Linked DNA regions of Homo sapiens: all the other regions are linked to region 3. Evidence: fine-mapped expression QTL. A gene starts in region 3. Each other region holds a variant in brackets. All regions are shown on one strand. Distances are between the middles of the regions.

Region 1 (8,211 bases), 68 kb after region 3:
GACATATTTACTAAAGAGATTATTTGCATTTACTTCTGGTAAGAGGCTAGTTGACTACCTATCCGAACCACTTAAATCTGAAATAATAACTTGAACTTTAAAAAAATAACCTAAATGATGTGGATTTGGGCACCAATCTGGGCAAGGTAGATTTGTGGTTACAACTCACTAGTGATAACTTCTCTCCATCTGCTCCCCAACCCCTGCTCTGTTGAGTGCCAGGATAACTCTCCTTGCAGTTCACTGGAGGTGAGGTGTAGATCAGGTTTATCTGCACCTTCCTAGTGTAGCCCTTAGGCTACCAGCTTTAAAGGGGTAGATCTCCTATCAAATTTTCTACCTCAATTGGGCATTACTTCTTGTGAAGCTATCAAAAGCCAGCTGTCACAGCCAAAGCTCAAATTCCTCTGGATTGGTAAAAACTTTGACAACAAAAGCAGCTTCAGTTCTCTGAATTCCTTTCTGGTTTCTGCTTTCATTTATATTTTCAACTTTAATTGTTTAGCATCTTGTTAGCTTTTTAATACTCTTAAGATTTTTAAAGTATCCATCTTTTATAATATTTTAAAGTTTTTTTCCAAGCAGAATTATTGGTCCAGAAACTTAGCCCTCAATATTCCTTTACTGCCTATGCTTTTTCTGTATTTAAATGCACAATCAGCATCTCAAATTTAACATTTCAAAACATGCTTTAGACTCTTGGCCCCAAGGCCAAATGTGGTCCTCCTCTACAACTTCCCATCTCAGTAAAACCAGCTCCATTCTGAAGAATTTCAGGTAAGGCTCTTGGCTTCATCCTTGAATCTCTCATTATCTTACACTCCATATCTAATCCAGGAGCAGGTCTTGTCAGCCATATTCTCAAAGTAGACCCAGAATGTGACTAACTGTCACCAGCTCTGCTACCACTACTCTGATCACATTATGGTTACATTTTACTGAATTTAACATAGAAGCCTCTTATTTGGTTCTGCTGCTTCTTCCCTCTCCCAACCACTCCATTCTCTAAGAATCAGCCAGAGTGAGGATCCTTTATGGATTTCATTACTCCTGTTACTCCTCTGTCCTAAAATTCCCTCTCTACAGACTACTCAGCTTACTTAGATTAAAGTTCGAGGCTCTTACAGAGCATGCCAGGCTTCCACCATCTACCTGCCCACTAACCCAGAGGACTTGTCTGATCTTGTAAACTACCACTTCCTCCACCCACCCCCAAACTCTTCTCTGGCTACACAAGCCTCCTTGCTGCCCCTCCAATGTGCTTCCACCTCAGGGATTTTATACTTTGTAGCATAGGATCACATTGGGAATAGGGTCTTTGGAGGTGTAATTGATTAACAATCTTGAGTAGAAGTCATCCTGGATTTTGAGTGGGCCCTAAATTCTATGAGTGTATCCTTATGAGACAAGGAAAGGAAACAGAGAGACACTAGAAAAAAGAAAACCATGCGAAGATAGAGGCAGAAATAGGGGCTATGCTTCCAAGAGTCACTAGAAGCCAGAAGAGGCAAGGAAGAATTTTCCCCTACAGACTTCAGAGAGGGCATGGCTCTGCTGACACCTTAATTTTGAACTTCTTGCCTCCCAAACTGTGAGAGAATAAATACCTATTATTTTAAGCCAGTGAGTTTATGGCACTTTGTTGTGGCAGCCCTAGGAAACTAATACTTCCTGTTTCTTCTGCTTGGAACACTCTTTCCCTACGTGCCCCTACTTGGCTTACTCTTGATTTCTTCAGGTCTCTGCTCAAATACCATTTTAGCGGAATGGCATGTATGACTACGTTAAATAAACAGCACCCTTTTCAGTCACTGTCCGTCCCTTACTCTGCTTTATTTTTTTAATGAAACATATTACCACTTGTTGTATTATCTTTATTCTGTTCACCACCTGTTCATTTTCTGTCTCTTTCCACTAGAATGTAGGAGCACAAAAACAGAAATTTGTCTTTCTTGTGCACTGCTCCATCAGCAGCACTTAGAACAGAATCTGGTACCTTATAGACCTTTGGTGAATACCTTTGCTATGTATGAATGTGCAGTATGGCTTACTTGTACAAAATTATTGGTGAATAAGCTACCAATAAGTCAAAATATGTTAAAATATAAAATACCAAGTCCCAAATATTTAAAATATGTTTAAAATACCTATACCAAACAAAACACAAAATACCAAAATAAGTTAAAATTGCGCATTTGAAGTGTTTTATCATATGATAAAAAGAACACGGGCTTTGGAGTGAGAAACACCCAACTTGTAACATCAGCTCTTTATTTTATGACCCTGTGATCTTGAGTAAAGCACTTAACCTTACTGAGTCCAAAATTTGTAAGATAATCTTTACCATGTAGAGTTGCTGTGGACTATAAATGAGAAAATTATGTGTAAAATACCTAGCCCTGTGCTTTTCATACAGGAGAAGCTTATTGAATGTTCTTTGAGAACTATTATATGAAAATAACAAAACCAACCAAAAACAAAAACCATGACAATAATGTCATGGACATACATTTTGCGTATGTCATACACACACCCACTAGATGTGTGTGTCTGTATATATATGGGTATGTGTATGTACACAGATATTCATATATAGGTATGTATATATTTGTGTATATACATATATGTGTGTAGACATATATAGGTATGTATATGTGCTCACATATACCTATATATGTATAGAATTTTGTGTATGGCCTATCTATCTAGAGAGATTGAGACTAGATTAGTTAGGAAGGATATTGACTTTACAATGTACCTTGACAATTACACCTTTGGCCCACATTGAAATGTGTTTCTTTGTTTACTCAATGATAAGAACAAAATCACTGTCTCATGAAACACATATCTTAAAGTTCCTACCTTTAATTTTGTGACCTCTACATGTCACATAATTAAATCGATGTTACAGATTAAAGAGAGATTTCCTTCTGAAATGTAGTGTGCTAATATAATCACAATAAACAAGTTCTGGCTTGGAATGCAAGTCATATGGTGAAATAGGAACAGAAATGGAGTGGAAATCAACTTCGTATTTGAATTTGATGAGTGATTTTAAGTAAAAACTTCTCTGTATTTTGGTACCCACATCTCTAAAATTAGAAGACTATTCTAGCTTCATGGAACTTTTGTTCACCCAAAGAATATATTTTTATAACCTGCTTCTTCTTTTGTGAAATGAAAGCAACACACACTATTTTTGTGAAAATTAAAGTACCTCACTTGAAAAACTCTAAAACTGTGTTTGGCACGTGATAGGTACCAAAATAATCCTTGTCGAGTTTGATCTGACACAAAAATTCCTTCGTTTCTGGAATCCAAATTCATCTTCAAACTTTTAGTCTCACTGAGATCTTTTTTTTTTCTCTGAAAATGTGAAAGCTGATAAGAGGTCTGTCCATGACTACCTTCCTCAATGACATATTACTTATCAACTTCTGCATTAAAGAGGTATATTGAACCACTAATCTTAAGTAAATAAATTGCTTTATTTACTCTTTGGTAGAAGTCTCATAGTAGGGGTACCAACTAAGCCAAATAATTTGAAGATAAACAAAACTATTCAAAGAAAATATAACAGCACGGCATAAATCTATACAACTATAGACCCTTTCTCCAGGAGTGGGACTTCTAGGGGATTTAG[C/T]GGGGTGATGCCTTGAAAAACTATAAATAAATCGTCTTTACTCCCTACTGAAATTCAACCACTGACAGAATAAAGAGCTTTGAGCAAAATCGGTTTACGAAATTCTCAGTGGAATAATTTGCTTCTTTTGTGTCCTGGGCACTGTCCTAAGCTTAATAGAGACATACATGGAATTTAATATCTATGTTTCCACTCCCTCCAGTATGCCTCTTAGGGTCTCACCCTCATGCAAAGCTGCTTATCAACATATTTTCTAAAGATACCACTGGGCTTTCTTCAAAGAATTCCAAAATGAATTGCTAAGAGAAGAATGTTTTTGACTCTAGTGTAAGCCAAAGGGTTTTTGGAGTCTACTGCTTTTGTGGCACATTGATTAAAGGAAACATAAGCAGGATCAGCACTAGGGCAAGGCTTACATTTATTTCATTACTGGTATGTATTATAAATCTGAATTATTTTTTGCCATAGAACAGGTTCTAGATAAATTTATATATGGTATAGAGGAGACAATAAGTATTTCATAAATAAGTCAATTAAAAATAATTTGTCAGTTGGAGGTATCATACCCTCTTTCCTCTTCCCATTCAGGCTCCCGACATCTCAGTCTATTGTGTTCTGCTCTTGACCTCACACTTCATGCTTTGCTCTCTTTTCATCAAGGTTTGTCATCACCTTGCTTCTCATCATTGACCCCACTAAAACTTCCAAATCCAGTATGATGTTACCCCTGGACCTGTAATACAAATTAATTAGTCAAATAAACTCCCCTTTATGAAATTGCAAATGATATTTTAGCTATCTGATCACTCCACCTCCACTCTTTCCTGCTCAGTCCAATAATAACTAAATCTGTAAGACCATACAAGCTGGTGGGGTGATGTTTTGTGGTATACAAGTTTTGTAGTCCCTTCCAAATCTCATTTACTTCACTTTCAAATAAGGTTAACGAAGTTCACTACCTTAACAGGGTTCTGGCAGAAAAATATTGTAATACTAGAGGTCTGAGTACTAATATGAATGTTTTGCTTGCTCTAACCTGTATTAGTAATGGAACGGCTTATTACACATTAAGCCTCCTCTGAAACCCTTTTCTAGCACCTTAAGGAAATAATCAATATGGTCTGATTAAAAATGGTTGGTTTTTCCTCTGCATACAACTTGGGTTTGTGAATGATGATTTTTAGTTTTAGTTTTTGTGTTTTTCAAAACATATATATAGTGCTTACTATCTGTCAGTCTCTGCTCTAAATATTTAGTAACTTGAAATGCAAAGCAATCCTATCGGATAGACACTGTTACTCTGCTCATTTTACAGACATGGAAATAGAAGCTTTATTGATGTGCATAAAAAGTACGTAATTTGTTTAAGGTCATTGGGTAGTAAGCGGTATAGCTGGGCTGTAAATCCAGGGAACATGTCTCTAAAGTCCATACTCTTAATATTGTGCTCTCCTGCTCTTAGAAACAAGAGAAGATTCTATCCTCCTCAAGAGGATGCCTGGCTAAAAAAAGCTGATCTCATGGAGGTAGAGAGTAGAACGATTGATACCAGGGGCTGAGAAACGTTTGTGGTTAGAGGCAGGAGGGATGAAGAAAGGTTGGTTAGTGAGCACAAACATACAGTTAGAGAGAAGGAGTAAGTTCTAATATTTGATAACAGAGTAAGGTGACTATAGCTAACAACATCGTATTGTATATTTCAAAGTAGCTAAAAGAGAGGACTTGACATCTTCCCAAAAGATAGAAATGAAAACACTGGAGGTGATAGGCACTCTGGCCTGATCATTACACATTCTATGCATGCAATAAAATACCACATGTACCCCATACATATGTACAAATATTATTCGTTAATGAAAACATAATTCTGGGCAATTTAAACAGAAAAGGAATTTGCTTAAGGGACGTTGGCTAGGTGAAAGAACCAACAAGAATTTTGAAGGATTGAACATGGAAATGGGGCAGGAAGAAAAGAGACCAAGCATCAAAATCATACTACAGAATAATGTGGTGAAGTCCCTGCAGCTGCTTCTACTGCTGCTGGACCTGGGATTAAACAGCTTTCATTGTTGTTACTACTGGGACGGAATCGTCATTGTTGCCATGGACACCTGCTGCTGCCTCTGCTGCTGCTACTACTGACTACACGGGGTCTCCACTGTTCTTGCTTCTTAAGATTCCAAGTTTGGGCCAGCCGTGGTGGCTCATGGCTGTAATCCCAGCACTTTGGGAGGCCGAGGCAGGTCAATCACCTGAGGTCAGGCGTTTGAGACCAGCCTGGCCAACATGGTGAAACCATGTCTCTACTAAAAATACAAAAATTAGCCTGGTGTGGTGGCGGGTGCCTGTAATCCTAGCTACTCGGGAGGCAGAGGCACGAGAATTGCTTGAACCCGGGAGACGGAGGTTGCAGTGAGCCGAGATCGTGCCACTGCACTCCAGCCTGGGCAACAGAGCGAGACTTTGTCTCAAAAAAAAAAAAAAAAAAAAAAATTCCAAGTTCGAAGCAGTGCATCTAATTGGTCGGTCATCCTAGGTCACATGCCCATCACATGTCACATTCTCTTTTCACAGGAGGCTGGAAAGCCAATATCTTGTCTTCTAGTATTGCAGAATAAAAAATAGGAGCCCCGATGTTTGTAAAATTTGACATACTTGTTTGAGACACACTTATTTGGGACGTACACTAACAAATCATTTGCTGTTTCTGTACAATTCAACTTTAACTTGGTACCCTGTATTTTTATTTGTTACACCCGGGAACCCTAGGATCTTCATAATTTCTATATCCAGGGAAAAACAAAGATTCATATGATGGAAAGTTCTCAAAACATAAGAATACGTTCTTTATCGATCAAGGAACAAAACGACTAATATTCACTACACACACTTCTGACATTTTTATATATAGTCACAGCATGACAACTGTGTGGAAGGGGAGAAGTGCTCTCTGGCATTCAATCAACCCTCAGCCTTTTAACCAGTGTTTTTTCTCCCAAAGATGTGTTACTACCATTTACTTTTTCTACTAGTTTGAGGTGATATTTTGAGTATATGCTTTTATTTTTAAAATGGATTCACCTTTTATTTCTCACATAAACTTCATTTCTCAATAATAAATGGAGCTTTCATTCCTAATCCTGAGAAAGAAGTTTCATTGTTGTAGCCTATTCAACCTATATACAAATATATAAACACATTCAGAGAACTTGTAAATGCAACATAAATAAATCAACAAATCTGTGTTGTAAAAGGCTCACTATGTGACATTCACTGCCTGCATTTTATTGTCTCAGCTTTACCTTCTGGCTAAAAGTATTTATGAAGCTCTCTGATCCTTCTACCAAAAAAGGTAATTTTAAAGCGCACAAAATGTTAGTGGCTTAGAACAAAACTTACTTCATAATTCTTCTTAAAGAAAGTATTTCTGATAAATTCACCCTAGAGAAAGGGAAAATAAAATAATTGGCAACATTTTTATTTTGTTTATAATATTCGTATAAATTTCTAGTTTATATATCATGCATATTCAATTTTAAGCCTTCAAGAATAAGAGTTGGAAAAAAAAGCTGTATTCTGGCAGTCAAATAGATCCTTGGCAAAAGCTGCAAATGGAAAGAGAAATTAATTTAATTTTTTCATTATAGTGCTACCATAATCATTTAGACTTCCTGTACTGATTTAATATGAATATATAGATTATATCAATATTAATTCATTCCATAATTATTGCTGGAAGAATACCAATAACTACTACCAGATTTGATAAATAGTGCAAAAAAATCATTTGGATTTTAGCAGGAGAAAATGGCCTCTTAAAATTTCTTTGTTTTTTTAAGCCTAAAAGTAATAATAACTTATTAGAGAATTCATGTATGCAAACTTTGACTTTTTGGTTATAGACAGAATTTTAAATTTTTGTCCTTATTTATTTGCCCAAAGCAAGAAAGTAGATTAGTTTTCTACAAAGAGTGATTGAATGGGAAGGAGAGCGGTGGGCTGCCATATGATTATTCTAGTTCATTTCTAAGGGCGTTGAGATTGTAAGAAAGATTCAGAAAATACTTTGGACTGCAGAATAAGCATAAATTCAGATTCTCCATTATTTGGTTTATGCTATCATATTTCTCTGAATCGTACATATACCTTATACCTTATAACCTCTATGTCAGTGTTTCATTTCACTTTTTTACTCATAGAAACAATCACTAGCTAATGACAGTTCAAGTCACATTACCTTGAAAATTGACTCTTCATGTGATTTAAATTACAGTTTGAAAATAAGGCAATTATTTACATATCCTTCTAATTAGTTCTACTTTATTGTTTTGTTTTATAGTAAAGAAAAATATGTAATTATTAAAATTCCATGAAATACAGAACATTTATATGAAAACATAACAGTCCTTTTTTTACAGCCTCCAATAACCAATCCTGAGGGAACCACTGATAATACTTTGGTATGTGTCCTTGTAGAATCCTCTTTTTGGATGCAGAAATAACATGTAATAGTAGAATTTTAAACATTTATCAAAGAAATGGGATTCTACTACATAGATGATTTCTAG
Region 2 (8,211 bases), 24 kb before region 3:
GCTTTAGGATTAAAAAACACGAGAAGACAAGACATTACTAAGAACTTACACTTTAGTAGAGAAAAAACTGCAACCAATTATAATTTGATACAATAATAACAGAAGGATGCACAGGGTATAATAGTATCTATGGGGTAAAAAGGGTATGGAAAGGGGGTTGAAAATATATCTTAGAAAAGAAGCCATCTGAGTTGGAGTTTTTAAAGGTTAATAGGAGTCCATCAAATTGGGAGACTGAATATGGGCAAGCTCAGGGAATCAGAGCAAACAGAAGAGTAAGTGTAGGTGAGAGAGGTTGTAAGCAGCACCTATCACACATCAGTAGCAAAAGACCCAGCAATGCCTAAGCAGAGAATTCTAGGCTCACCTTGGTGCGGCATATTGGCCTTATACACTTGTCTCTCTTTAGCAGAGTACTGCACTAGGAGTCAGGAGAACCAGGGTTGGGATCCTGGCTCTCAGAGTACCTTTGTTTGCCACTTTTTTGGTTCTTATCTCAACTACGAAATAGGGTCTAAGCTAAATGTTTCAATGATCACTTGAGCTTAAAAATGTTATAATCGGCCGGGCATGATGGCTCATGCCTGCAATCCCAGCACTTTGGGAGGCCAGGGCGGGTGGATCACTTGAGGTCAGGAGTTCAAGACCAGCCTGGGCAACACACTGAAACCCCATCTCTACTAAAAATACAAAAATTAGCTGGGTATGGTAGCACACGCCTGTAATCCCAGCTACTGGGGAGGCTGTGGCAGGAGAATTGCTTAAACCCACAGGCAGAGGTTACAGTGAGCCGAGACCATACCACTGCACTCCAGCCTGGGTGACAGAGCAAGACACTGTCTCAAAAAAAAAAAAAAAAAAAAAGTTGTATTCCAATTCTAGCACTTAAATAGCATTATCTTAATCATTTGAAAAACACTTTATGGGAAATATATTTTTATCTAATAATGCTGGGAAATAAGTCTCACCTCTACAATACTGTTTTATGTAGATCTTTGGCTGCTTCAAGTATCAGTTTATTTTTAAAAAGTACCTGTGCCAATACAGACAACTTCGTCAGCATTTAGCTGAGAAAAAAAATGCATGAAACCTTGAAGAACTCATGGGAAAAACAAAGCAACTAAATGCAAATATAACATGCTTTAAAAGCATAAGCCAGAAAGATTACTGATTTCTTTTGAATCTTATACTGGTGCTAGGTATTCTCTTTTTGTTCAGAACTGTACTATACTCAAGACCAGTGACAAACAACACCTTGAAAACTTTTAATCAGTCTTGTAAAAGCAAGGCATCTAGCAAGAAGACGATACATGACAAAAAGAAACCAAAACAAAAAACCTGCTAAGTATTGTTAGAAGTATCTTCTATATAAACATTTTTAATTATATGTATAAAATCCATATTTATACAAGCATGTGCATGAAACACATTATCTCAGCCCAAAAAACTAGAACAAAATAAAGTACAACACACACACACAAAGCTAAGTCCGTTGCCCAGAATTGGTTAAGAAATGAACCTGCCACTTCAAAGCATAAAGTCATTATTTTACGTTGTATACAATTTTAGGGATTCTACATAATAGTACTTTAATGATGATAACAAACAATGTGAACATGTCTTTTTAGAACATGTGAAGCCAACTATATTCAGTATTATGGGCTATGTGAAAGGCAGAAATGAAAACAGGAAAACCAACTAACATCGATTACTCCAGAGGAGGATGAGGTTCTAGGAAATCAACAAAGACACTCTGAATGGTCTCACGAAATTTAAAGTGTCACTCCTGCTTAGGCTAAACAATCCTGAGCACCAGTGACAGGGAAGACAACAGAAGTAATGACCAGTTCCTGTCTTAAGGGGCCCTCTTGGTAAAATATTGCTTATAGCAGAAACCCAGTAACTCTCGTCTTATCTAAGTTATAATGAAGGGAGTTCAGCCTCTGGGAGAGCTTTATCATGGATATACCAGCCCTAACAATTTTCTTTGGATAGTGTTGTCATGTTCTGAAGAATATTTGTTAACAACAAATGGCTCCTTTTACAGGGCATGAACAAATTACTATTGTACCAGCTCATAACATAGCTACCTATCACATTAGCCTTTGAACACCAAGCAAGTAATAAAATTTCTTTCACTTATTGGTATGTTACAAATAGCTACTTGAAAAAGGAAAAAGAAATCACAACTGATTTACCTTCTGTTTAATTACCAGTGTATTATAATTTCAAAATTTTTTATGTTAAATTTTCTTTTCTTAAAGTTGTTTGGGAGGACTTAAGCTGTCGATCACGATAGAATAAATGGCACCCGATTATTCTCCACTTTAAAACAGCAGTAACAACAAAAAAAAAAATGGACAAAATATATGAAACAACTGTTTTTAGGTATTGGACAACAGGCAGCAGAGGACCTGAGAGACAGAAACACACTGACAAGCCCCACATTCCCCCTGGCTTGCTGCATAAGAGTACTTTCTATCACAGCATAGAAAGGTGAGACCTAAGTGATACAGTTTGGTTCTGTGCCCCACCCAAATCTCATCTTGTAGCTCCTGTAGTTCCCAGGTGTTGTGAGAGGAACCCCATGGGAAATGACTGAATCATGGGGACAGGTCTTTCCTTTGTCGTTCTTGTGATAGGGAATGGATTGTCTCACAAGATCTGGTTTTAAAAACAGGAGTTTCTCTGCACAAGCTCTCTTTGCCTGCTGCCATCCACATAAGATGTGACTTGCTCCTCCTTGCCTTCTGCCATGATTGTGAGGCCTCCCCAGCCATGTGGAACTGTAAGTCCAATTAAACCTCTTTCTTTTGTGAATTTCCCAGTTTTGAGTATGTCTTTATCAGCAGTGTGAAAACGGACTAATATACCAAATAAAGACAGATGATTTCCCTGAACTGAGGAGGCGAAGAACTTGAGGCTAGAGTTAGTAGATACAGTACAAGAAGGAAGGGAACTGTGCCAGAGGGGTGGCATAAAAGTTGCATAAGCGTTTCCCTAAGACCTTGGCTAAGGCCTAACTGCACCTGGGCAGGGCAAGAATCCTCAAGGAAAGAAAGGCTGCTGGCCGGGCGCGGTGGCTCACGCCTGTAATCCCAGCACTTCGGAGGCTGAGGCGGGCGGATTACGAGGTCAAGAGATCGAGACTATCTTGGTCAAGATGGTGAAACCTGTCTCTACTAAAAATACAGAAATTAGCTGGGCGTGGTGGCATGTGCCTGTAGTCCCAGCTACTCGAGAGGCTGAGGCAGGAGAATCCCTTGAACCTGGGAGGCGGAGGTTGCAGTCAGCCATGATCACGCCACTGCACTCCAGCCTGGAGACAGAGTGAGATTCTGTCTAAGAAAGAAAGAGAAGAAAGAGAGAAAGAGAGAAGGAAGGAAGGAAGGAAGGAAGGAAGGAAGGAAGGAAGGAAGGAAGGAAGGAAGGAAAGAAGGAAGGAGAGAGAGAGAAAGAAAAGAAAGAAAGGCTGCTTTAGGACTAAGAGGTAACGGGAGATAGCTGCTTTAGGACTAAGGTAACTGGAGATATCAGATATCAGAGGTCATATGTGGGTAGATGGAGTAGTTCCAACTCAATAAAAGTAGAGAGTTCTTGCTGAGCCCCTCTGGCATTCAGTTAAATAAGATTCCAGAAAAGCAACATCTTAAAAATAAGAACTACA[G/C]CCTTGAAAAGGAGCCCTGCCCTAAAATTACAAATAAAGCTAGAAGAGGATACCTACTCCTAACAAAGTACTGAAACAAGCCTAACAGGTTCAAGATCCTTTAGTAATTTAATTGCCTGCCAGAACAAAGCTCATAACTTTTAAAGAAAGGTAACATAATTCATAACCCTACAAAATGTATCACACACAAGTACAGCACATAATCAAAACTCTCTAGACATGTGAAACAGGAAAATGTGACCCAAAATAAAAACATGGTAACCAGATATTGATATTAGCAGACAAATACTTTAACAAATTAAACAGCTGAACATAATGAACAAAAAGACAAGAAATCTTAGCAGAAGAAACAAACTAGAAAATGGAATCAAAAAGTAATACTAGAGCTAAAAAGTCCAACATTTCAGATGAAAATTCACTAGATGAACTTAACTGCAGATTGAATACTGTAGAAGTATAAAAGACATTAAAGGTAGATCAATAAAAGATATCTAAACTGAAGAATGGAGAAAAAAATGAAATAAAAAATCAGGGCTCCCACAACCCCAGGTTAATATAAAGTGATCTAGAAAGCTCAAAAGGAGGAAGAGGGAGCGAGCAAGGGAGAGATGGAGAAAAGAGGAAGGGAGACAGGTACAGGCCTCCCTCAACTGTGTCAACCAAAAATGTCTCTAGACATTTTCAAATATCCTTTGGTGGATAAGATTTCCTTGGTTGTGAAACACAAATCTAGAATATGTAAAAAACATTTACAAATAAGTAACAGGATGACAACCTCATTAAAAAGGGCAAATGATTTACAGAGACACTTCTCAAAAGAAAATATACAAACGGTCATTAAGTACAGGAAACGATGCTTAATATTATTAATCATCAGAAAAATGCAGTTAAAGCCACAATTAAAATCACTGAACCATTAAAATCCACAATAATGGCTCAAATTAAAAAGACTGACAATACAAAGTGTTGATTAGGATGTGGAGAACCTGGGACTCTCACACACTGCAAGTAAAAATGTAAAAAGGTACTTTTGGAAAACAGTTTGGCAGTTTTTCTTAACCTTAAACATACACTTTCCATATGACTAAGAAATTCCACTCCTATATATTTACCTTAAGAAAGTAAATGTCCACAGAAAGACTTCTACTTGAATGTTAACTGCAGCTTTATTCATAATATCTCCAAATTGGAAATAAGCCAAATGTCTATCAACGGGTGAATGGATAAACAAATTCTGCCGTATTATTTCAATGGAATACTACTCAGCAATAAAAAGGAACAGACAACTGATACATGCAACAACATGGATGAATTTCAAAAGCATTATGCTTAATAAAAAGCCAGGCACAAAAGAATAAATACTATATAATTCTACTCATGAAATTCTAGATAAAGGAAACCTAATCTATGGTGACAAAAAGCCTAACTGCATAAACAATGCAGTTTATGTTGGACACCTTCTTTCCTTCTGGGAATCTGGAATCTTCCCTCAACTTTATAGATCTTAATAACTTAACCTTATTGTGCTTTATGTAGCAAAACATTTTTGCATAGTATCTATCGGTTGTAGGTTCACTGAGACTGAATACCCAAGAGTTTAAACAAAAAGAAATTGGCCAGGCACAGCGACTCATGCCTGTAATCCCAGCACTTTGGAAAGCCAAGGTAGCAGGATCACTAAAGCTTAGGAATTCAAGACCTGGGCAACATAGTGAGACCCTATCTATACAGTGATTAAAAAATAATAGCCAGGCGTGGTGGTGCCTGCCTGTAGTTCTAGCTACTAAGGAGGCTGAGGTGGGGGGACTGCTTGAGTGCCTGGGCCCAGGAGGTTGAGGATGCAGTGAGCTAGGATCACATCACTGCACTCCAGCCTGTGTGACAGAGCAAGACCCTGTCTCAGAAAAAAAAGGAAAGAAAAGAAGAAAAAGAAATTAAGTATTTTAAATAAAGATGTAAAAAACTCATTTAATCCAGAAATTGTTTGGTATAGACCTTCAAACTAGAAATGAAAAATCTAATGAAGTATCTCAAAGGTAAGTTACGACATCACAGTGGCTAGAGAAGTATACCCAATTGCTGAGAGACTAATAAAGCCTTGAACAGATGACAATGCTGAATGCCTGCTAGATGAAAAGTCCATGAAGAAATAACATGGTAACTTTTCAATAATACAGTAACTCTTCAATCTAAAGATTTGGCAGAGAGTCAATCTCTTGTCTGTAGAATTGTATTTTTGCCTTGCAAACAGATGAATATATAGATGTGGCTGGACCTGGTATTTTACTTGTATCCAGCTGGTATTAGCTAGACCTGGTGTTTTACTTGTACCCATCTGGTATTAGCTCCAACTGATCATTAAAAATCCTTTATGTGAATGCATAGCTACAAACACAGGAAGTGCTGAAATAGTCAAAGTGTTGAAAACTTATATGAATTTCATGGCTTATTCTAGAACATCTGTGTTGACATTTACACTGATGATGCAAAGCAACGTTTGGTAAAAACAGCAGGTACCTTACTTAGCACAAACCAGGACAGTGGCACTAAACTTTACTAGTGACCATTGCATTCTTCTCTGCCATAGACTTTCAAGAACATAAAAGGCCAAATCAAAGATTTAAAGATTAAATTAAAGATTTGGCCTTTTATGTTCCCGAAAGTCTGTGGCAGAGAATGTAATGGTCTTAGTAACTAAAGAATGTCCTTGATGAAGCAGTAAAAATTTGTACTGATAAAAACTTAATTTCAACTATATATCTTAATATTCTGTATGACTAAGTACTATGGCTATGTCAAGGAAAAGCACCTTCACAAATGCTGGAGCAAAGAGCTACAGGAGCTGCTCTGTTCATTAAGTACCATTTTAATTTGAGATGACTATGGTTATTCAGAATTGGGTGTTTGGCAGAACTATCCTCAAAAAATAAACAAAGTAAGCCTGTTATCTAAAGGAAAACCACTGATGTTATTTGTTGCCAATGATAAAAATTCAACGTTTCAAGTGAAAATCTGCAGTTTGGAAAACTTTTATCTGCCACAGTGAGTGTGACAACTCCCTCACACGTAGTCAGCAGGGATACCAATGAATGCAATTTTTTTTCATATTATACAATGAAAGGTATCAACATTTGGTAGATCTACATAACTCAGCAAACCAACAATTTCCAAATGCCCAACATCTTATAAAAGCATGTATGATAAAAGATCCACTCAAAGTACAAAATAGTCTGATGGATTTTAATTTAACAGAATATGAAAAGTTCACTGATATGATTTTAGAGTTTTGATAAAGAATCAAAGAAGACTATGCACAATTTTCTGAAAAGACTGAAAAAAGTTTTTTCCAACTACATATCTGTGTAAGATCAAGTTTTCTTCATATACTTCAATCAAAACAATGTATCACAGCAGATTGAATGCAGAAATAGATATCACAGTTCAAAAAGAGATTTACAAAACTGTAAACCAATGCCATTCTTCTCACACATTTTTGGAAAATGAGGTTCTCATTAAAAATGTTACTTAAGTTATGCAATGGATTATTATAACTATATTAACATTTATAAAAATTTCCATTTTAATTTCTAATATAGTAAATACTGATAGAAAATAACCTACAGAAAGGCCGGGCATGGTGGCTCACGCCTGTAATTCCAGCACTTTGGGAGGCCGAGGTGGGCGGATCACAAGATCAGGAGATCGAGACCATCCTGGCTAACATGGTGAAACCCATCTCTATTAAAAACACAAAAAAATTAGCTGGACGTGGTGGCATGTGCCTGTAGTCCCAGCTACTTGGGAGGCTGAGGCAGGAGAATTGCTTGAGCCCAGGAGGCAGAGGTTGCAGTGAGCTGAGATCATGCCATTGCACTACAGCCTGGGCGACAGAGCGAGACTCAGTCTCAAAAAAAAAAAAAAGGAAAAAAAAGAAAATAACCTACATTCTTTCAGGTCCTGAGTAACTTTTTAAGAGGATTAAGGGGTTCTGAAACCAAAAAGTTTGGGAATGTCTGGTCTAGAAGCAACAATGAGGAGCAAGAAAGTGACTTACCCCACATTCAGGTTCAGTAGTTTGAGAGGGGTGGAGAGAAAACAGTGAAAACATCCACCACTAAGTGGGATTCAGGAAAAGCAATATTTTCATAGAGCAGCCAGGTTTCACTTAAAGTGGTGAAAAGATGTTCCCCATGTCTTTTCTAAAACATCATTTTTCCTTCATTATCAGATCATTCCTCCCACATTAAATACTGTGACAGCTCTAGCTAACTGACAGTCCAGGTTAATTTTCATATTCAGTGTCAATCTCTTTTATAAACTTCAAAATATTAATATCATCAAATTGCAACATAAACAAGATTCTTCCTACCAATTTCACTTCCACTTCCCCCATCCTGAACACTCCACAAGATGATGCTACTCTCTGAGGCAACAGCAACCATTTTGTCTTTGTCTCCATGTGGCCCTCCAACCACCTTTGCATTTAAAGCTACTCGTTCGATAGTCCAATCCAAATATGGGCTCGTAAACACTTGCTGCCATCC
Region 3 (8,211 bases):
AACCTGGAATTTCTGGGCAAAGGAATTAGACCCTCATCCCCACCAATTTTTTTTTAAACTTCTGGCCCCAAAACCAGTCTCGAATATAACTTCATGAAAACTAACACACTTAAAATTACACATGATGAGCATAATCATTTGAAAGCCTTTTCTGTTTTGATTTGTTTTTTATCCCATACCCATAGTGTCCCAAGAACAGAGTCATGTACAATCTGGTTTCAGCAAAGGACTAAAGAAATTTGCATACCCACAGTTATACTTCATGCAACTTGCCTCCTACTAAATTAACTTGGTAGCAATCTAACTAGTTATTTATTCTGCACTGTAAGTACTGATAATGCCACTAACCCTTGCATTTCACATTTATTACTTCAAATTCCTATAACAATCTGATAAGATTGGTACTACTGTCTGTCACTTTACATTTTAATAGACTAAGTATCAAAATATTTGTCCAAGGTTGCTAGGCTAGTTAGAGATAAAGCCTGGGAATTGGAAACATATACCTGACTCAAAAGCTCTTTGTCCAGGAGTCCTCAATGGCTAGTCCCAGCCCTCTTGCATGAGGCCCAAAATCACACTTGCCCATAACAGAATTAATCATAAATTCAGTCATAGTGAATTCACTTCATTACTTTTTGTAAATAACGAATACTAACAATTCTAAATGAAACTTCATCTACTCTACTTTCTGAATCACCCACAAAGTATTAAACCATAAAAATTAGTCATTTCTATAATTCCTTTGAGTATATCCATTTTCATGTCTATTCTCCTGAGGGAAAAAAAAAAAAAGACCTTACCGATAGCATATGCTTCTCTGCTCCCAACAAACTCTCCTTTTGAGTTTTACTCTATCACTTCAGAACTTCAATTCTATGCCACAGCAGTTCCTGAACTTCAGTGGCAATCATATCAGGATTTTTCTCTTACAGTGGCTTAAGTGACTATGTTACACTGTGTTTTGTACAAGATACAGGTGACTTCTAGATCTCATCTAGCTCTAAAATGCTGCACGAGTGTAGGATTCAAAGCAAATCTAGAAAATATTCTTAGAATATGGAGTCGGATGTTGTTTTCTACGGGCCATACCATTACTACTTATTTTATAAGCCATTTTATCTTAACAATTTTCTGAAGTTTTTTAATGTTTCCATTCCCACTAACAATTTCATGTCTTGTAAACTGTTCAAACCAGTAATATATGTACTATTTTGTATCTTTGCTAATATCACTTAGAAAAAATTAGAACCTGATAAGCTCAAGTTTCATAAATAATGTAAACACAAGATAAAATGTCACAGTGCCAGGCTGAGACAGGAGAATGGCGCGAACCTGGGAGGCGGAGCTTGCAGTGAGCCGAGATCGCACCACTGCACTCCAGCCTGGATGACAGAGCGAGACTCTGTCTCAAAAAAAAAAAAAAAAAAAAGTTACAGTGCCAAGATAACTGCCTTATGAGTTAAAACTTTTAAATGAATTCTGCAGTCTCTAATAAGAGTTCACTCAGTATTAAGCCATCCACATAGTAAATAACAATACTGCTTAATTTTTACAATAATACTGTATGTCCTTGTGAATGTCTGAATAGAAATATATTAACTATCGGCCAGGCGCGGTGGCTCACGCCTGTAATTCCAGCACTTTGGGAAGCCGAGGCGGGAGCATCACGAGGTCAGGAGATCAAGACCATCCTGGTCAACGTAGTTAAACCTCGTCTCTACTAAAAATGCAAAAATTACCCGGGCGTGGTGGCGCGCGCCTGTGACCCAGCTACTCGGGATGCTGAGGCAGGAGAATCGCTTGAAACTGGGAGGCAGAGGCTGCAGTGAGCCGAGATCGCGCCACTGCACTCCAGCCAGGCGACAGAGCAAGACTCCGTCTCAAAAAAAAAAAAAAAGAAAATTAAAGAAAAGAAATACATTAACTATCAATAGCAAGTAGAAACCAGTGTAGGGATTGTAAATGATTATACTGCTACTCTTCAGTATAATCAACACACATTGCAGGCCTCCTCTTTAGGGGTATTCCACAAGTTACCAAACTTCCAATATTTTAACGTGATTTTAGGAAAAACTCCATTTCTTACATTAGGAGACATAAATCTCCATAAGACTGGTTTCTATACAACTGCAATAACGTTGTAAATTATCTAAGTTTTGATTTGGGGGAAGAGGAAAAACCCTAAGAACGAAGTACCATGGTTTTCTGTGTTAAATTCTAGAAAGCTATCAAATGTTTAGGATTAAAGCACTACAGTAGACATTTTTTATCACTATGGTTCTAAGACATTAAAATACTTTTAAAATGCTGGTTGAAAATCATATTCTCAAGCACAGAAAAATTAACTGTATTCCAGAGCATTTCCTTGTTTATCTCCTTACCAAGCCTAAAACTCAACTAATCCTTCTTTCAAACAGCTGGCAAACTCCCTTTTCTGAGAGGAGTGACTCATAAGTTATAGGAAATCCACAAAAACTACGATTTTTTCCCCCAACAAACTTAATAACAGGCACAGAAGGGGCGGGGGGGGGGGGGGGCGGAAGGCCAGAAAGAGAACAGACAGAGAAGAGCATTCAGTCTGTTTACTCCAAGGGCGTCACACCGTGCCAATATCCAGAGCTTCCTAAAAGCAAATGTTCAAACTGCAGTTTCTGGACACACTGTCCTAGAAGTTGAACAGATCCTTCAAGCCCATGCACCAAGAAATTCTGAAAATAAATAACTAGGTACTGCAAACCTACTGCACTCCCATCACAGAAATCTTTCAAATTACAAATCCCCTAATTAGGCGCGGAAAAGAACACCGCACTCTTCCCTAAGAAAACCGACACCTCGTTGACCAAAGAGAAAGGAAAGCAAGTTCATCTCCAACATCCAAACCACAAAGCCAGGTTTCTACTAAATAAAGTCCTCAAATACACTCTAATCTGAGATGAGGTAAGGAAGGCTGTGTAATGGTTCTCCTTGCCTGTTGGGAGGGGCAAAGGTTGGCATTCTAGGACAGCAGCTACTCTGCCACATGGGCCTGGTCCTCGGTAATTCCAAGCGTCCCTTCTGCCTCTCCCTTCCCAGAGCAGATGCTTCACCAGCTCCAAAATCCGCCCGACGTTCTTGCCGCCTGGAGGCCCCCACGTTCCCCTCCAGGCTTGGCCTCCCACGCTCGCCCTCGTTCCTGCGACTCTCGGTCCCCGTCGACACCAAAGGAGGAGGCCGCCAAGGCATCCCCGCTGCAAGCCCGCTACCCGCCGACTCACCTGGTCCCCCCTACGTTCAGTTGGACGATCTCGCCGCTGCCGGCCGCCGCCGCGGGGAAGCTGCCGCAGTGCCCTCCCGCCATCTCCGGCGGCTCCGGACGCGCTCGCCGCCCTCCTTCCCCAGCCGGGACCGCCGAGCCCGGGGCTGTAGCCCGAGGCAGCGGCGACGGCTGCAGGGCCAGCGGGGCGGCGGCGGCCGGAGGGCGGGGGGTGCACGGGGCTTCCCCCACCTTCCCGGCGGCCGGGCGGGGCTCGCTAGCTTCTGCCCCTTCCCGGGTCAATCCTGCGGTGCACAAGGGCGGCCCGGCCTCCACCTTTCGCGGCCTCCAGGCCGCCGGGCCGCCCGGGCCTCTTCTCCGTGCTCCGCTGCCACCGACGCCGCCGCAGCCTGCCTGGGAGGAGGGGTCACCGTTCGGGACAAAATACCGCAGCGCTCACGCTTCGCCCGCCACTGCCGCCTAGAATGAGGAGGAGGAGGAGGAAGGAAAGGTCAGGGAGGAGCTTCCCAACGCCGCGGGGCTGGCGCGTAGGGAGGCTAGGGGAATGTGCTCCTGGCCAGCCGCCTGCCCACGCGGGATTCCATTTCGTTCCTCCTCCCCACGCGATCCCAGCCCCTTTCCCTTTTACATTTCAGATTTTCTAAAACGAGGAAGCTGATTCGCAGATTGAGGGCAGATCTGGGCAAACGATCTACGGATCTTTATGACCCACTTTGTCAACATGGATTGGGAAAGGAAAAACTAATCCTAGAGGTAGTAAAAGTTGATGCCTAAATGTAGACAGTGCAAATGCAGGGAACATTTGGAGATTTTAAAACCTTACAGCGTTTACCCCAGAAAACTGCTTACTTTACCCTCTTCAATTTAATCCCCAATCTCCCAAGCAGTTTTTTTGTTTTGTTTTTTGCTTTTGTTTGTTAAGCAGGAAGGAAACCAAAGGACAAAAACCCCTAGACTGTGTAATGCCCAGCAACCTATTTCTGGAATATAGTAAGCACTCAACTAATGTTAGACACACGCAGAAAACACACAATTTTATGCGCTTGTTTATTTATTTGTTTTTGCTTTAAACGGTATCTATTCAAACCCAAAACCTTAGTGGCTATTAAAATATTTTTTAAATCGGAATACTATAATACTTGATGCCCTGCTAACAAAGACTAACAAAGATAGTGCGTTATGTTTCAGAGGTCATTAGTTTGTGGTACTAAATTCTTAACATGAATTGTTTTGTCATAGTTGTATCATAATAATTCAAACTGATAATGTATCTGATGTTAAGTTTTTATTGTCATTGTCATAATTTTTACCAAAAAAATAAAAAATAGCCTCTGGCAAGCATACTAATGTTGTGATATGCTCTATCTAGATTCGACTTGAAAGATGTTAATAGTACATATGGATGTAAGATAAGTATTATTTCTCCCAGTTGATGATAAGCTTAATAATAGCTAATTTGTGTTTATCATATACCCGGTGGTTTAGATATTTTGTCATCTTTCTTCGTCACAACTAATGTTATAATTATTTTTAAAAAAGGAAATTTGGGAATGAAAATGATCAAAAAAACTTGCTCAAAATTACATAGGTAGCAAGTGGGATGGCAGGAATTTCAAGGCAAGCAGCTTGAATTCAAGGCCACTGTTCACCATCCTTACCACTGCATTGTACCTCATTATCTTCACTTTAGACAGGGAAGATGAGTAACAGTTCAGATTAAAGCAGCAGCAACTAGGAATCTAAACCAGGGTGTCCAATCTTTTGGCTTTCCTGGGCCACATTGGAAGATGAATTGTCTTTGGCCACACATAAAATACACTAACACTAACGATAACTGATGAGCTGAAAAAAAGAAAGAAAGAAAGAAAGAAAGTTTATGAATTTGTGTTGGGCCACATTCAAAGCTTTCCTGGGCTGCATGCGACCCATGGGGCTGCAGGTTGGACAAGCTTGCTTTAAACAATGTTAACTGCCTTTGCCCTAACACATAATATCTGGTTCTATCAGGATCTGAAACTTTGCTTTAAAATTTGCAGCGAAGATTTAAGTGGTAAAAGGGCCATTTAATTTTCCTTAGGTCCAAACCTTGGAAGAATATGAAAGAATAGTTGCTAACAGCCTTTGAATCCAAGAGGCAAGTTGGAGTTAGAATAAGGCCTTATAAATTTAAAAATATATATATTTGTGAAAGGCTTCTTATTTTTCCTGAAATAAATGAAACCGTGTTCATTTTATTATACTGTACTTAAAAATTAGGAGAACATCTCTTCAAGAGAAGGAAAAGTTCTCAGTATTTTATAAGACAAATGGTCATGACTTCTTGATATGTCCAGAACAATATAGAGATATCTGAGGCATTTCTTGCTCATAAAACTTAAAGTTAGGGTGTGACTTAATTTTTAAGAATAAATTGGAACACCATTAACAAAAACAAATAGCAGAATGAGAAAAGATATTTGCAACATATATCAAATGATTGAAAATATATAATATCTGATCATATATGTATATATTATTCTACAAATAAATTGAGAAAACAAGTAATGAAAAATATGGAAAGAATATCAACAGCCAATTGATAAAAACACTAAAATGCTTATTAAAACAACAGAAAGCTGGGTGTAGTGGCTCACACCTGTAATCTCAGCACTTCGGGAGGCCGAAGTGGGTGGATCACGAGGTCAGGGGTTCGCGACCAGCCTGGCCAATATGGTGAAACCCCGTCTCTGCTAAAAATACAAAAATTAGCCAGGCGTGGTGGTGCGCGCCTGTAGTCCCAGCTACTGGGGAGGCTGAGGCAGGAGAATCGCTTGAATCTGGGAGGCAGAGGTTGCAGTGAGCTGAGATCGCACCACTGCACTCCAGCTGGGACGACAGAACGAGACTCCATCTCAAAATAAATACATAAATACATAAATAAATGAATAAAACAAAAAATGTATTTTTACTCATGAGATTAGCAAAAATTAAGAGAGGTTTGATAAAATTCAAGGACAGTGAGAGTGTGAAATGATCATACTCATGCATTGCTGATTAAATTATGAATGGGTACAGAGTTTCTGGAGGGCACCTCAAGAATATCAGCATTTTAAATGTAAATACCCTAGACCCAGCACTTTTCTTCTAAAAATATATCCTATACACATTTTGCTCAATTGGCAAAGGTACATGCAAAGAAGTAAGTGCATATTCATGGTAGTAGTGTTATAATAGCAAAAACATGGAATATTCAACAACAAGGGAATAATTTTTAAAATTATGTTGGAAGCTATTACTATTTTGGGGGCAAATTCATGTGAACTGACCAGAAATGATCTCCAAGTATATGATTTAGTGGGGAAAATAATCAGATTACAGAATAATACATTATGAGTACAATCTCATTCATTTAAATAATGGAAAAACTAAAATCATGTGTATATCCACTTATATTTCTATATAAAAATACATATTAAACTACGAAGAAACATAACCTCTAGACAGATCATTAGAATCAGTGAGGAGAAGGTAGCAGTGGTGAATGGACAAAACCTTTTACCCCTATGGTCTTTCATATTGTTTAACTGTTTACAGTGAGTTTTCTTTCATGTACTACCTGTATGTATGTATGAATGTGTAAATAAATAGAGTAGATACATTCAAGGTTGTCCCCATGACAGCTTTTTAAAGTTTATGTTATTTTAATATTTAGGCAATACAAAGTAAATAAAACATTATTTAAATAATATTACCTTCTTTAGTGACTATATTGAATTTGTGATGTCTACTCGACCAGTCCTTGTCAAACTATCTCAGGTAAGAACTAGTTCAATTTCCAATTTATGGGGTGATTTAGTCAGGACTCTCTAGAGGGACAGAACTAATGGAATATATATATGTTTTATAATATATGTATTTATAAATATATATTATATATATGGAATATATATATGTATATTCCATTAGTTCTGTGATGGGTAAACTCCCCTTTATATATATATAGCTCGGGCGGGCACTGTGGCTCACACCTATAATCCCAGCACTTGGGATGCCAAAGTGTGCGGATCACCTGAGGTCAGGAGTTCGAGACCAGCCTAGCCACATGGTGAAACCTTGTCTCTACTAAAAACACAAAAATTAGCCAGGCGTGATGGCACGCTCCTGTAATCCCAAGTACTCGGGAGGCTGAGGCAGGAGAATCACTTGAGCCTGGGAGATGGAGGTTGCAGTGAGCTGGGATTGCAGCACTGCACTCCAGCCTGGGTGACAAGGCAAGAGTCCATCTCAGAAAAAAAAAAAAAAGTTTCCAACCTCTTAGTCTCATTTTTGTGCTTATTTAATTGCAGACTATTCACAGTTTGTGGATGGGCATCAATTCATGAACCACACTTAAGTGGCCACACTTAAAGTAGTGTTTATTATCACTTAAGTAGCACACTTAAAGTAGCATTTACTTGAAGTGTGGTTATACTAAAAGTAGTACACTAAAAGTAGTAACCACACTTAAAGTAGCGTTGTATTAGATATCCAAGTAAGATGTTGAGTAAGCTGTTGTATAAAGGACCTAGAAGTTTCAGAAAGAGAACTAAGCTAAAAATTCTCTTATTTTTACTGAAATAAAACTTTGGGAATGAGTAGTATATAGATGGCTGTTAGAGCCATGAGACTGCCTAAAATCATAAGGAGGTGAGTGTAGAATGAGACAAAAATAGAAATCAGAATGGAGCCCTTGACTATCCAATATTAAGAGACTGGGGAGGAGTTCCAGTGAAGGAAACTAGAAAGGAGTTTCAGCCAGATGGGAGGAAAACCAAGGGAGCATGGGGTCCTATGAGATCACAGGACAAGTAAGATAAGAACTAAGAATTGACTTTGGATTTAGTGACATGAAGAAAAATAGTGTGGTGGAAGTAAGGGCAGTTCTAGTGCAGAAGTGGGAGAAAAAGCATAATTGGTGGGGTTTTGCTATAAAGAAG

Direction of the effects. Alleles are on the strand shown, and positions count from the first base shown. SD is a standard deviation of normalised expression in the study named. Not every link is listed here.
For the expression in esophagus mucosa of the gene that starts at base 3,722 in region 3, G is the low allele of the variant in region 2 and C is the other (small effect, 0.28 SD a copy in GTEx).

The links.
Region 1: its variant is fine-mapped to the expression of KCTD3 in whole blood (TOPMed, PIP above 0.99).
Region 2: its variant is fine-mapped to the expression of KCTD3 in esophagus mucosa (GTEx, PIP 0.98).

Annotation. Positions count from the first base shown.
Region 1 is chr1:215,495,241-215,503,451 of GRCh38, reverse strand. No RefSeq gene overlaps it. Among named protein-coding and RNA genes, the nearest start is that of KCTD3, 68 kb to the left of the region's middle. The variant C/T (reference allele first, on the strand shown) is at 3,644.
Region 2 is chr1:215,586,511-215,594,721 of GRCh38, reverse strand. It overlaps KCTD3 (potassium channel tetramerization domain containing 3), which reads right to left. Exons shown (of 18, transcript NM_016121.5): 9 at 8,037-8,211. Among named protein-coding and RNA genes, the nearest start is that of KCTD3, 23 kb to the right of the region's middle. The variant G/C (reference allele first, on the strand shown) is at 3,668.
Region 3 is chr1:215,562,815-215,571,025 of GRCh38, reverse strand. KCTD3 (potassium channel tetramerization domain containing 3) reads right to left here and starts at 3,722. Exons shown (of 18, transcript NM_016121.5): 1 at 3,258-3,722. The coding sequence starts at 3,340. It overlaps LOC124904599 (a long non-coding RNA gene), which reads left to right and starts at 3,669. Exons shown (of 2, transcript XR_922599.2): 1 at 3,669-3,746; 2 at 3,892-4,599. RefSeq lists an enhancer at 2,648-3,508 and a silencer at 3,321-3,590.